Regions from separate parts of the Homo sapiens genome. Here region 1 is linked to region 2. The links come from fine-mapping of genetic effects on gene expression. A gene starts in region 2. The other region holds a variant in brackets. All regions are shown on one strand. Distances are between the middles of the regions. Region 1 overlaps SMIM35 (small integral membrane protein 35). Region 2 holds the start of SMIM35 (small integral membrane protein 35).

The links. PIP is the estimated chance that this variant, and not a neighbour inherited with it, causes the effect.
Region 1: its variant is the best candidate, but not a certain one, in a credible set for the expression of SMIM35 in whole blood (INTERVAL, PIP 0.60).

What each region holds. Positions count from the first base shown.
Region 1 is chr11:118,019,042-118,024,420 of GRCh38, reverse strand. The region is part of intron 1 of SMIM35 (small integral membrane protein 35); the gene reads left to right. Among named protein-coding and RNA genes, the nearest start is that of IL10RA, 35 kb to the right of the region's middle. The variant C/T (reference allele first, on the strand shown) is at 2,774.
Region 2 is chr11:118,084,551-118,089,929 of GRCh38, reverse strand. It overlaps SMIM35 (small integral membrane protein 35), which reads left to right and starts at 2,967. Exons shown (of 5, transcript NM_001394165.1): 1 at 2,967-3,179. The coding sequence starts at 3,173. The region is part of intron 1 of TMPRSS4 (transmembrane serine protease 4); the gene reads right to left.

The sequences.
Region 1 (5,379 bases), 66 kb after region 2:
AGCTCAGGACCTTACTAGACACCATACCCTTGACCTGTATATTTTCCAACCTATACATATGGTTTAGTTAAAAAGAATGATTCTTACGGAGGGTCGGTTGAAAGGAAATGTAGTCTATTTCTTCCTAAGGATAGTTTAGGCCTTCCTTGATGTAATAAAAAAAGAGTTATGATATCAACCATGGGCACCAGAATTCCTCATAGGAAAAGAAATGTCTTGTTTGAACAAATAACTTGACAGGTTCTTCAAAATTGGAAAATTGTTGGCCATATCTCATCAAAATTTTTTTTTCTGTTTTCCCTCGTTTTCTCCTTCAGGGAATCTAATTACACATATATTAGGTGGCTTGAAGTTGTCCTGCACCTCACTAATACTCTTTTCTTTCTTTCTTTCTTTTTTTTTTTTGGAGAAGGCATCTCACTCTATCACCCAGGCTGAAGTGCAGTGCAACCTCCACCACCCAGGTTCAAGCATTCTCCTTCCTCAGCCTCCCGAGTTGCTGGTATTACAGGCACACGCCACCACACCTGGCTAATTTTTTTATATTTTTGGTAGAGATGGTGTTTCACTATTTTGGCCAGGCTCGTCTGGAACTCCTGACCTCAAGTGATCCATCCACCTTGGCCTCCCAAAGTGCTGGGATTACAGGCGTGAGCCACCACGCCCAGCTTTTTCATTTGTTTTATTACTTTTTTTCCCCTCTATGTCTCACCTTGGATAGTTCCTATTGCTATGCCTTCAAGTGCACTACTTTTTTCTTCTGTGATGCCTAGTGTGCTGTTAATTCCATTCAATGTAATTTTCATCTCAGATGTTGTAGTTTTCATCCCTGGAAATAATTTGGGTCTTAAAAAATGGGGTCTTTTACACAAGAAGGGGAACATCACACTCTGGGGACTGTTGTGGGGTGGGGGGAGGGTGGAGGGATAGCATTAGGAGATATACCTAATGCTAACTGACGAGTTAATGGGTGCAGCACACCAGTATGGCACATGTATACATATGTAACTAATCTGCACATTGTGCACATGTACCCTAAAACTTAAAGTATAATAATAATAAAATAGAAAAAAAGGGTCTTTTATAATTTGAGACTTATTGAATCTCTCTTTCTCCCTCTCCCTCTTTTTCACACACACATGAAATTGAGGCTTTTGGTGGTTAAATAACTTGCTGAAGGCCTCAGACTGATGAGTGAATAGGATTCAGACCCAGGCTGCAGGATTCCAAGGCCTGTGCTCTGTTGGTTGTTCTGTTCATTATGGGTCATTTTGCTCTGCCTCTCTGAGTGCCTGGTAATATTTGACTGAATGAGGATATTGTGAATTTTACTTTGCTGAGTGGTAGATATTTTTGTTTGCCTATAAATATATTGGGAAGCAGTTAAGTTAGTTGGAAGCAGTTTGACCTTTTTGGGTCTTGGTTTTATGATTTGTTAGATGGGTTCGGAGCAGTAGACAAATCATAAAACCAAGACCCAGTGTAGTGGAAATAATTAGCCTTAGGCTGAACAGTCTAAGGCTAATTATTCTCACCACTAAGGCAAGAACTTCCTGAGTTCCCTATCCAATACCCTGTGAATTACGAGTTTTTCTAGTCTGGTTTATGGGAATAGGCCCTGCTTCTAGCCCTATTTGAATGCTAGACACTGTTTCCCACGAATGCTTTCAGATGATTCTCTGGCCTCAGGTAGCTCCTTTATACACAGGCACTCATTACTTATTGAATACTTGAGGGGGTCCCTCTGCACATAGCTGGATTCTTTACCTGATGTAGCTCTTTCCTCTGTCTTGTGAACTTTAGCTGCCTTGGACTGTCTCCTCAACTTACATTTTTGCTATGTTGTGTTTTCAATATCATTCAGATCTAAGTATTTTCTAATTTCCCTTGTGATATCTTCTTTTACCCAGGATGTTTTTAGAAGTGTGTTGTTTAATTTCCAAATATTGGGATGTTTTCCAGATATCTTTTTGTCTTTATTTTCCAATATAATTCTGTGGTCAGGGAACATATTGTATATTATTTTAACTTTTAAAAATTTATTGAGATTTACTTACTAAGACTTATTGTTGGGCCAGGGGCGGTGGCTCACGCCTGTAATCCCAGCACTTTGGGAGGCCAAGGCAGGCGGATCATGAGGTCAAGAGATCAAGACCATCCTGGCCAACATGGTGAAACCCTGTCTCTACTAAAATTACAAAAATTATCTGGGCATGGTGGCAGGCACCTGTAGTCCCAGCTACTCGGGAGGCTGAGGCAGGAGAATCACTTGAACCTCACTTGAACCAGGGAGGTGGAGGTTGTTGTGAGCTGAGATTGCACCACTGCACTCCAGCCTGGTGACAGAGCAAAACTCCATCTCCATCTCAAAAAAAAAAAAAAAAAAAAGACTTATTGTTTTATGGTTTAGCATATGATCTGTCTTGATGAATGCTCCATATATACTTGAGAACAATGTGTATTCCCCAGATGTTGGATGTAGTGTTCTGTAAATGTCTACAAGGTCAAGTTAGCTGGCAGTGTTGTTTGTGTCCTCTATATCCTTAGCTGATTTCCTGTTCTATCAATTGCTGAGAGAGAAGAGTTGAATTCTCTAATAATAATTATGAATTTTTAAAGTTTGTCTTTCAGTTCTACTCATTTTTTCTTTTTATATTTTAAAGCTATATAATGAAATGTCCTCTTGATGAGTTGTCCCTCTTATCATTATGAAATGTCCTTCTTCATCCTTGGTAATATTTCTTGTTTTAAAATCGTTTTTGTCTGATATCCA[C/T]AGAGCCACTTCAGCTTTCCTTTGATTAGTTTTTATATGGTATATCTTTATTTTCCCTTTTATATGTGACTGTGATAAGTTAAAGATACATTTTATAAACCCTAGAATAATGAATAAAAACTATAGGAAAGATGTATAGCAAATGATATAAAATTAGACATAACGGAAAAATTTAATAAATAATTGGAAATTATAAAAAGAATTAAGTTAAAATTATGGAAATGAAAAACACCATAACAAATTAAAACACTAAGGATGATTAATAGCAGATTAGACACAGCTGAAGAAAGAATTAGTCAGCTAGAAGATAGGCCCAGAAAAAAATATCTAAGACTGAAGTTTAGAGTGACAAAAGTAAGTAAAAAGAAAAAACAATTTTATTGTTAATGTCAAACTTTTAAACTGAATTTTCAGTAACATTCACAATAATTTCCAATGTTTTACCTCCTACAGAGTAAGCTTCTAAAAGCTTTACTTTGACTTCATGAGTTAGATGAAAACATTGAGCTAGTATTAAAATTAAATTAACTGTTACTCTTTTCTTATACCAGCCATAATTCTATAACTCATGTCCATCTTAATAAATAGTAAAAAAAAAAACCTTACCCTGTGAATTTGGAAACTAAAAACGCACTGCCAAATACCTCAAGGGTTAAAGAAGATATCCCAGTGGAAATTAAAAAACATTTAGATCAGACAAAGGTAAAAATATTACGTATCAAGTCTTATAAAATGAAGCTAAAGTGATGCTTAGGGGTAAATTTAGAGCATCAAATACATATATCAAGGTACATTATACTGGAAGTTCTAACCAATACAATTAGACAAGAAAAATAAACTGAGACATATAAGAACAGAAAGTAAGAAAGCAAATGGCCTTTATTTGCGGACAATATAATAGTCTACATATCCAAGGAAGACCAGAAGAAAATGATTAGAATGAGAGAATTCAGCAACACTATTACATGGAAAACCAATATACACAAAACAAGCTCCTGTTCACACTTACAACAACATTATAAAGTACTGAGGAATAAATCTAGCAAGAAGAGTACCAAACCTTTAAGGGACAAATTATAAAACATATGACAGTCTATAAAAGATGACCCAAAATAAATGAAAACATTTGCCATACTTGTAAGTTTGTAGACTCAGTATCTCAAATATATAAGTTTTATCCAAATAAACCTATACATTTACTGTTATCTCAATCAAATTCTAATAGAGATTTTCACTGACCTTGAAAAACGAATTCCCAAATTCACAAGAAAGAGAAAAGTACTCAGAATAACTAACATGCTTATGAGGGAGGATAGAGTGGAGCGTTTATTTTACCAGCTATCAAGATTTATTTATATATTTATTTATTTAGTCAGTTAGTTATGATGGAGTCTCGCTCTCTCACCCAGGCTGGAGTGCACTAGTGCGATCTTGGCTCACTGCAACCTCTGCTGCCTGGGTTCAAGTAATTCTCCTGCCTTAGCCTCCTGAGTAGCTGGGATTACCTTTGCCCGCTACCACACCTGGCTAATTTTTGTATTTTTAGTAGAGATGGGGTTTCACCATGTTGACCAGGCTGGTCGTCTTGAACTCCTGACCTCAGTTGATCCGACAACCTTGGCCTCCCAAATGCTGGGATTACAGGCGTGAGACACCATGCCCAGCCGAGATTTATTATGAGACCATAGTAATTAAGATAATGTAGCAGTGTTTGTCATTACATGTCTAGTGTCCAGTGACAGACACGTAGACCAATAGAATACAGTTGAAAGCCCAGAAAAAGAAGCAGGCACATCTGTTTAACTTGATATATGAAAGCAGCAGCAATGAAGGGGAAAAGGATGGAAAATTAATTTCCATACAAAAATTATGGAGATAATGTATACAAAAATGAATTCCAGGTTGATTAAAGTCCGAAACTGTAAAAAACAAAACGTTAAAACTTCTAGAAAAAAAATAAGGAGTATGTCTCGGAGGAGAGATGGATGTCTTAAATAAGATTTTTAAAAAGCACAAATAGATAAATTTGATTAAAATATTAGTTAAAATTCTGCTCAAAAAAGACACTATAGGCAAACTTAAGAGGCAAACCACAGCCAAAGACTTTGGGGGACCCCTTTGCAGATCTCTGAGAGTCCTTGTCTCTGTCCAGCTCCCTTCTCTCTGGTATTTTGTCCGTAAATTCTAGCTTCCTGGGCTTCCCTGAACTTAAATTCTGACTCCTCAATTTGACTGCTGGGCTCTTTCTGGGTTTTCCCTCCTGTGCTGGAACTCGGGGAACTCACCCAGGCAATAAGCCAGGCAATCCTAGAGAGCTCTTCATTTTACTTCCTTCCTTCAGGGATCACTATTCTGTACTACCTTTGCCCATTGTTTTAGATGGTTTGTTGGTTTTCTAGTTATGAAAGTAGGAAAGTAAACCTGGTCCCTATTATTCCACCATGGCCAGAAGTGGAAGTGGTCCTAACATAATTTTCATAAAGTTTGAAAACATGTAAAACAATGCTATATATCTCTATATCTACATAGATATATAGAATTTGTTAAAAATATGAAGTAATGGTATAAAAAAGGTGTACAGCAGAGATAAACACCAAATTTGGGAG
Region 2 (5,379 bases):
AGGTTGCAGTGAGTGAGATGGTGCCACAGCACTCCAGCCTGGGGGACAGAGCAACACTCCATCTCAAAATAATAATAAGGATGATATTAGAATGTAATATTAAGGGAAAAACTTAGTCCCAAAAGATTACATATAGCACAGAATCTTTTCTATAGAGAAGCAAGGGAATGATGAATATGGGGTTTGGGAAGAACTTACTTGGGCAGGGAGCTTGTAGTACAGTCCCTGCCTATCAAATATGTATAGCCAATATTTGTCGAATTAATAAACGAAAGACACTTGCTCTACCCACCTCAGGAGAGGGATGGATATGTGTGTGCAGGAGTGGGAACCTCATGGTTAGATGTAGGTTACTATTAAGTCCAGCTTTTGTTGGGGATGATGGGTTTATGGAGGCTTATTACATTGTTAAATCCAACTAACTAGCAAGTTACAAATGGGCCCTGCATGGACCAATAGTGAAAAAAGTCATGAAGCAAGGATTCTAGTTCCCCCAATGCTATGCACCCAAGGCTCAAGGAAAACATAAAAAAGCCATCACCTGGCTATGCTGAGTGGCTTGAGGAGGTCAAACTCATGTCCTCACCATGCTCTGCCCTTACTGTTGTGCTGCCTGAGTTTCCCCATGAGTAGCTCATTCTTTGGCTTTTCTTGAAGCTCTTTGGCAAATATCTGTGACACAGACAGGTCAGAGCTGATGGACAGATACACCTTTGGAAGAGGAGCTGCAGAAGGTCACGAGTACTGGGGCTCATGGGCAGGGAGGTAGGTGCATTTTAGGCCTGTGAGTGTCAACTGGGGGCCATCAATGTCGATGACATCCCTGAGCAGGATAGAAATAGGGACTTATGGCCAGCTGCATCTCCTCTGAGCCCAGAAGCAACAATCCTGAGCTAAGGAAAGGAGAGAATGGGTCTGAGAGATGTGGGTACCAGGTAAAATTCAGAGATCCAGCCAGACCCCATCACCATGGTGGGTCCCCGCCATGATCAGAAGATGCAAAGCTGAAACAAGGCAACTTCCTTATTTTCAGATGAGAAAACAGAGGTCGGATAGAATTGTCTTAACCTGGAGTTAATAGAGGGAAGGAGGAAGTTGAGAGGTCACCAAACAACACATGTGCTTCCTTCTGCTTTGCTGGAGATGTATTTATTTACCCCCAGCTTGAACTCAGCTTCTGCCTACAACTGTTACAGCCCCGGCCCAGCCCAGACCAAGCAAAGGCATTGGCCTTTCCCTTTCTGTTTGGGCCACTGGCTGGGCCAGGCCTGTCTTCTCTGTTGATTCAGTCTGCCGCAGAGCCCTGACTCATGGGTCCAGCCCAGCCAGTGTCTGACCTGGGGCTCATCCGGGAATGAAGCTCCTGCTGTGTGCAGTACAGTGGAAGGGCAAGAATGCCCAGGCCCCCAGGGCCCAGGTAGCGGGTGAGGTGGGGAGGTGGAAGTGGGTGGGTGTTCAATCACTGGAAAACCTGCCATTGCCTGATCAACTCAGAGAATCTTCTTTTCCTGCTTCTCGGTTTGTCACCGGCAGAGGAAGACATTAATCCAAGACCCAAATATGGAGGCAGAACCATTAGTTATTGCAGTTGAGTATTATTATATAATTTACGATGTCTTTCTTTCATAAATGCTGTCCTATATAATCCATGGAACAACCCTGAGAAATTGTCCCCATTTTACAGAAAAGGCAGCTGCTATGGCTTCGGAGCAAGTAAGGAACAGATCTAGCCCTTTGGGCCGGGTTTCTGGACTTGGTGGACTGTTGATTTCATTTCCCCATGGTTTCAGGAACTCATTTCGGTAACAGTCATTAGCTGGTGCTGGGTCCTTTTGAATCACTCCTCCCTTGCAATGCAGCCTTGTTGGATATAACCAGCATGCAGTCATCATGCAGAGATTGCCCCCAGCATCTCTCCAGCTCTTCCTCGGTGTGAAGGTAGAGTGACTTTGCTCAGTTCTGGGCTCTGCCATATCATCCATGAATGCGGTCAAGAGACCTCAAAGAGCATGTTGGGAAAGGGGCCTATTGCAGGGCTTGGTTCCCAGGAGGGGCTTTATTGATATTAGCATTTGTTCTTCCCTTTCTTCCATAAGTTCCCACCTTTCTCACCTGCCTCTTCTTCCTTTATTCCTATTCCCCACCCCTACCACTGTTTTAGATCATGGGGAACCTCCTGGTTGGGCTTAGCTCAGCTCCAAAAAGCAAACAGACATCTTAAGGTCAACTTCCTTTCCAGCTCAGAGAGAATGAACCCAGATACAAGGCAGCTCTTGTTTTTAAATGGAGTGAAGCTTAAGTGGCTGCAGAGAAGCCACAAAGTGTGCTGCAGAGAAGCCACCAGCCTGGAGAGTATGAGTTCTCATCTTGCCTTGTCTTCTGACTTGCTGTGTGGCTTTGGGCACACTCCTCAATGTCTCTGAACCTCAAGATCCCTTTGGGTAATTGGGAACTGCCCTTCAGAGATGGGATGAAAGAGTTAATAACCTCATAATGAAACAGGCAAGTCCACCAGGCTAATAAGGAGAGGAAGAAGAGGCGGCAGCTCAAGGAGGCCAAAGGAACAGAAAGCTCGGCCAGCTCCTGTCTGCCTCCCTTGCCAAGCATCCTGTCCCTGGGGCCTGATTTCTCTCTTCCTCTCTGCAATGCTGACTTGGCATTGACTTGCTCTGGAAAGAAGTCAGTAAGGGCAGAGCTGGAATGACTGGAGTGTGGACAAAGAGAGAAAAGCAGGGGCACACAAAAGAGGGTGACAGCTTCAGTCTTCCCTGGAGTCCAAGGCCCTGGCTTCCCATGGTCTCATAGGAAAACCTAGAGCCAGAGATGGTGCTGTTGCTAGGTGATGGGATAAACAGGTCCTTTGAGGCTTGGGCAGGTGGCAGTTAGGTTGCTGAGGCCAGTAATAAGCAGTGGGGAAAACCCAAGGGAGGGGGTGGGGAAAGTTCTTCGGGTAAGCCAAGAGACCCAGAGGTGCTTGCCGTCAGCTTGCAGAGTGGGGCCCGGCCACAGTGCTCCTCTGAGGGAGCCTCACTCTGCTCTCTGACCCCAGAACCTGCATCCCTCCCCAAAACCAACGGCAAGCAGCTGTGTCCTCTCCACTTGCAGCTGGAATAGGCAGTTTGATGCCTTTGCTGCGCTGGCAACAGGGCTCTCTCTCTTGGATGTCTCAGCCATGACAGGTAAGGAGAGGGTCACTGAGGGCTGGAAGATCATGGGGCAGGAGAGGAGGGAGTGAGTTTCCTGAGATGAGCCTGGTGGTGATGCAGCAGCCCAGAGTGCATGGGAGGTCCTCAGAGATGACTGATCATGCCGACTTCCAAGTATCCTGGGATCGCACCTGTTACTCTGTCTCTAGGCAGGTCGGCCACCAGCCCAGGCCATATGCCGCTGGGCATCTAAGCTCTCACGCAGAAATTCAGGGAGCATCCTCACAAACACTGCCTTGCGTTGAGTCATTATTAGAGCAGCACTTTTTCCTTTGGGTCTAACCTCAGCCTTGGCTGCTACATTAGAAACCATTTTGCCTTGTTCTAAACCACATAGGTGCTGACCTATTGGCAATTTGAGCCGAGCACCTCATCCCCCATCTCAGCACATAATGGCTCCAGGGCAGGGCCTGGGGCAGAAGGGAGGAGTCAGGCAGCCTGCCATTATCCCCTGCCAGCCTGCTGTTCAGCTCCCATCATTTAAGAATCAGCTTTTGTGTTCGGGCATAGCTCTTAGGTTCAGATAGGGCTGGGGAGGCAGGGAAGATGTAACTATTCCTATTTCACAAATGGAGAAACTGAGGCACAGCGCTTATGCTTTTTCCCCAGAGACAATGTGAAGGGCAGGAGTGAGGTATTTGTACATGCCCCTTGGGCTAAATTAAACTGAAGACAGACCTGGTTCCCACTGGAGGGCCCTGCTTCCAGGTGATGCTGCTGTTTACTGCAGTGCTTAGGAATCCCTCTGCGATCCTTCTCTTTGTCCTAGGGGAAGCAGCCCATTCTCTCCCACCTTTCTGAACTCTCAACAGCTCTACTTTGCTCAGCTTTCCCTCTGTTCCAGAGTGGTGGGTCCATCTGAGCCCACCTTCCCCTCCTGGAAGGGTCTGATAGGAAGGAAGGTGCCACCATCTTTGCACACCTGAGGACAATGCCTGGACAATGGCTGGAGGGGACTCGAGAGGGCCAGAAGGGGTCCCGCCACACAGTTCAGCCTTTCAGCCTGGCAGGGACCCTCATGGGTTTGCCATTGGGAAGGGCTGATGGATTTTAAAGCTTAGAGGGGTTCTCTCAACCTTGCAATTTACCTGAACTGAGGACCTGCCATCCATGGAGCAGTCTGACGTTAATTTAAAAAGGTTCAAAGACAGAGTTTATACCATCTTTCAAGAATCGTACTCACTTTTGCTTGTCCTGAGTTGTCCTTTAAACTTTAAGAGGGAGGGAAATGGCAGGGAGGGAAAAGGAACTGATTGGGACTGACTCCAGCCAGGAGTTTGAGACCAGCCTGGCCAACATAGTGAAACCCCATCTCTACTAAAAATACAAAAAATTAGCTGGGCGTGGTGGCAGGTGCCTGTAATCCCAGCTACTCGGGAGGCTGAGGCAGGAGAATCGCTTGAACCTGGGAGGCGGAGGTTGCAGTGAGCCAAGATCCTGCCACTGTACTCCAGCCAGGGCAACAGTGTTAGACTCTGTCTCAAAAAAAAAAAAAAAGAAGAAGAAGATCTGACTCCTCCATCTGTAGAACAACTTTTGAGCAAGTCACTAAACAGCTCCTGGACCCAGTTTCCTTCTTTGGAATGTGGGTACAATAAAAGCGACTTCACAAGATGATGGGGAGAAAGATTCTGTAAGGTGCGCCACCTGCTCAGCACCGTGCACATTTTCAGCACCTTTGCAAGCCCCCAGGAGCCCCATCTGGTCTTTGCATGATTTTACAGACTTGCTCATAGTCCCCTAGGTTGGTCTTTGCAGTTTGAGGGGTCTCAGCTGCCTTGATCAGAAGGGGGTTGTCCCTTGATCCTGCTCCTCCTGAACTCTGAGGCAGGGACACTGGCCTGAATCCAGCTCTGCCTCTTCCCAGCCATGAAGTCTTGAGCAAGTTAATAAATTTTTCTGAGTCTCAGTTTTCTCATCTGTAAAATGGGGAGAATATGACTTAATTCACAGGGTTGTTGGTGAGAATTATTGATGACACATGTGATGTGCCTGGCTTGGTGCTTGAAACATAGAGGAGTTTAGTAAGTGAAAATTAGTGCTCTCTGCCCCAATTACCCTACAGGCATGGAGAGCAGAACTCCACACATGTTCAAGGAGGGTCTGTGCTGTGGTTCTGTACAGGGGCAGGGTTGAGGATTCTCGTTTGTTCTGGAGGCCCCAGTGATAACCA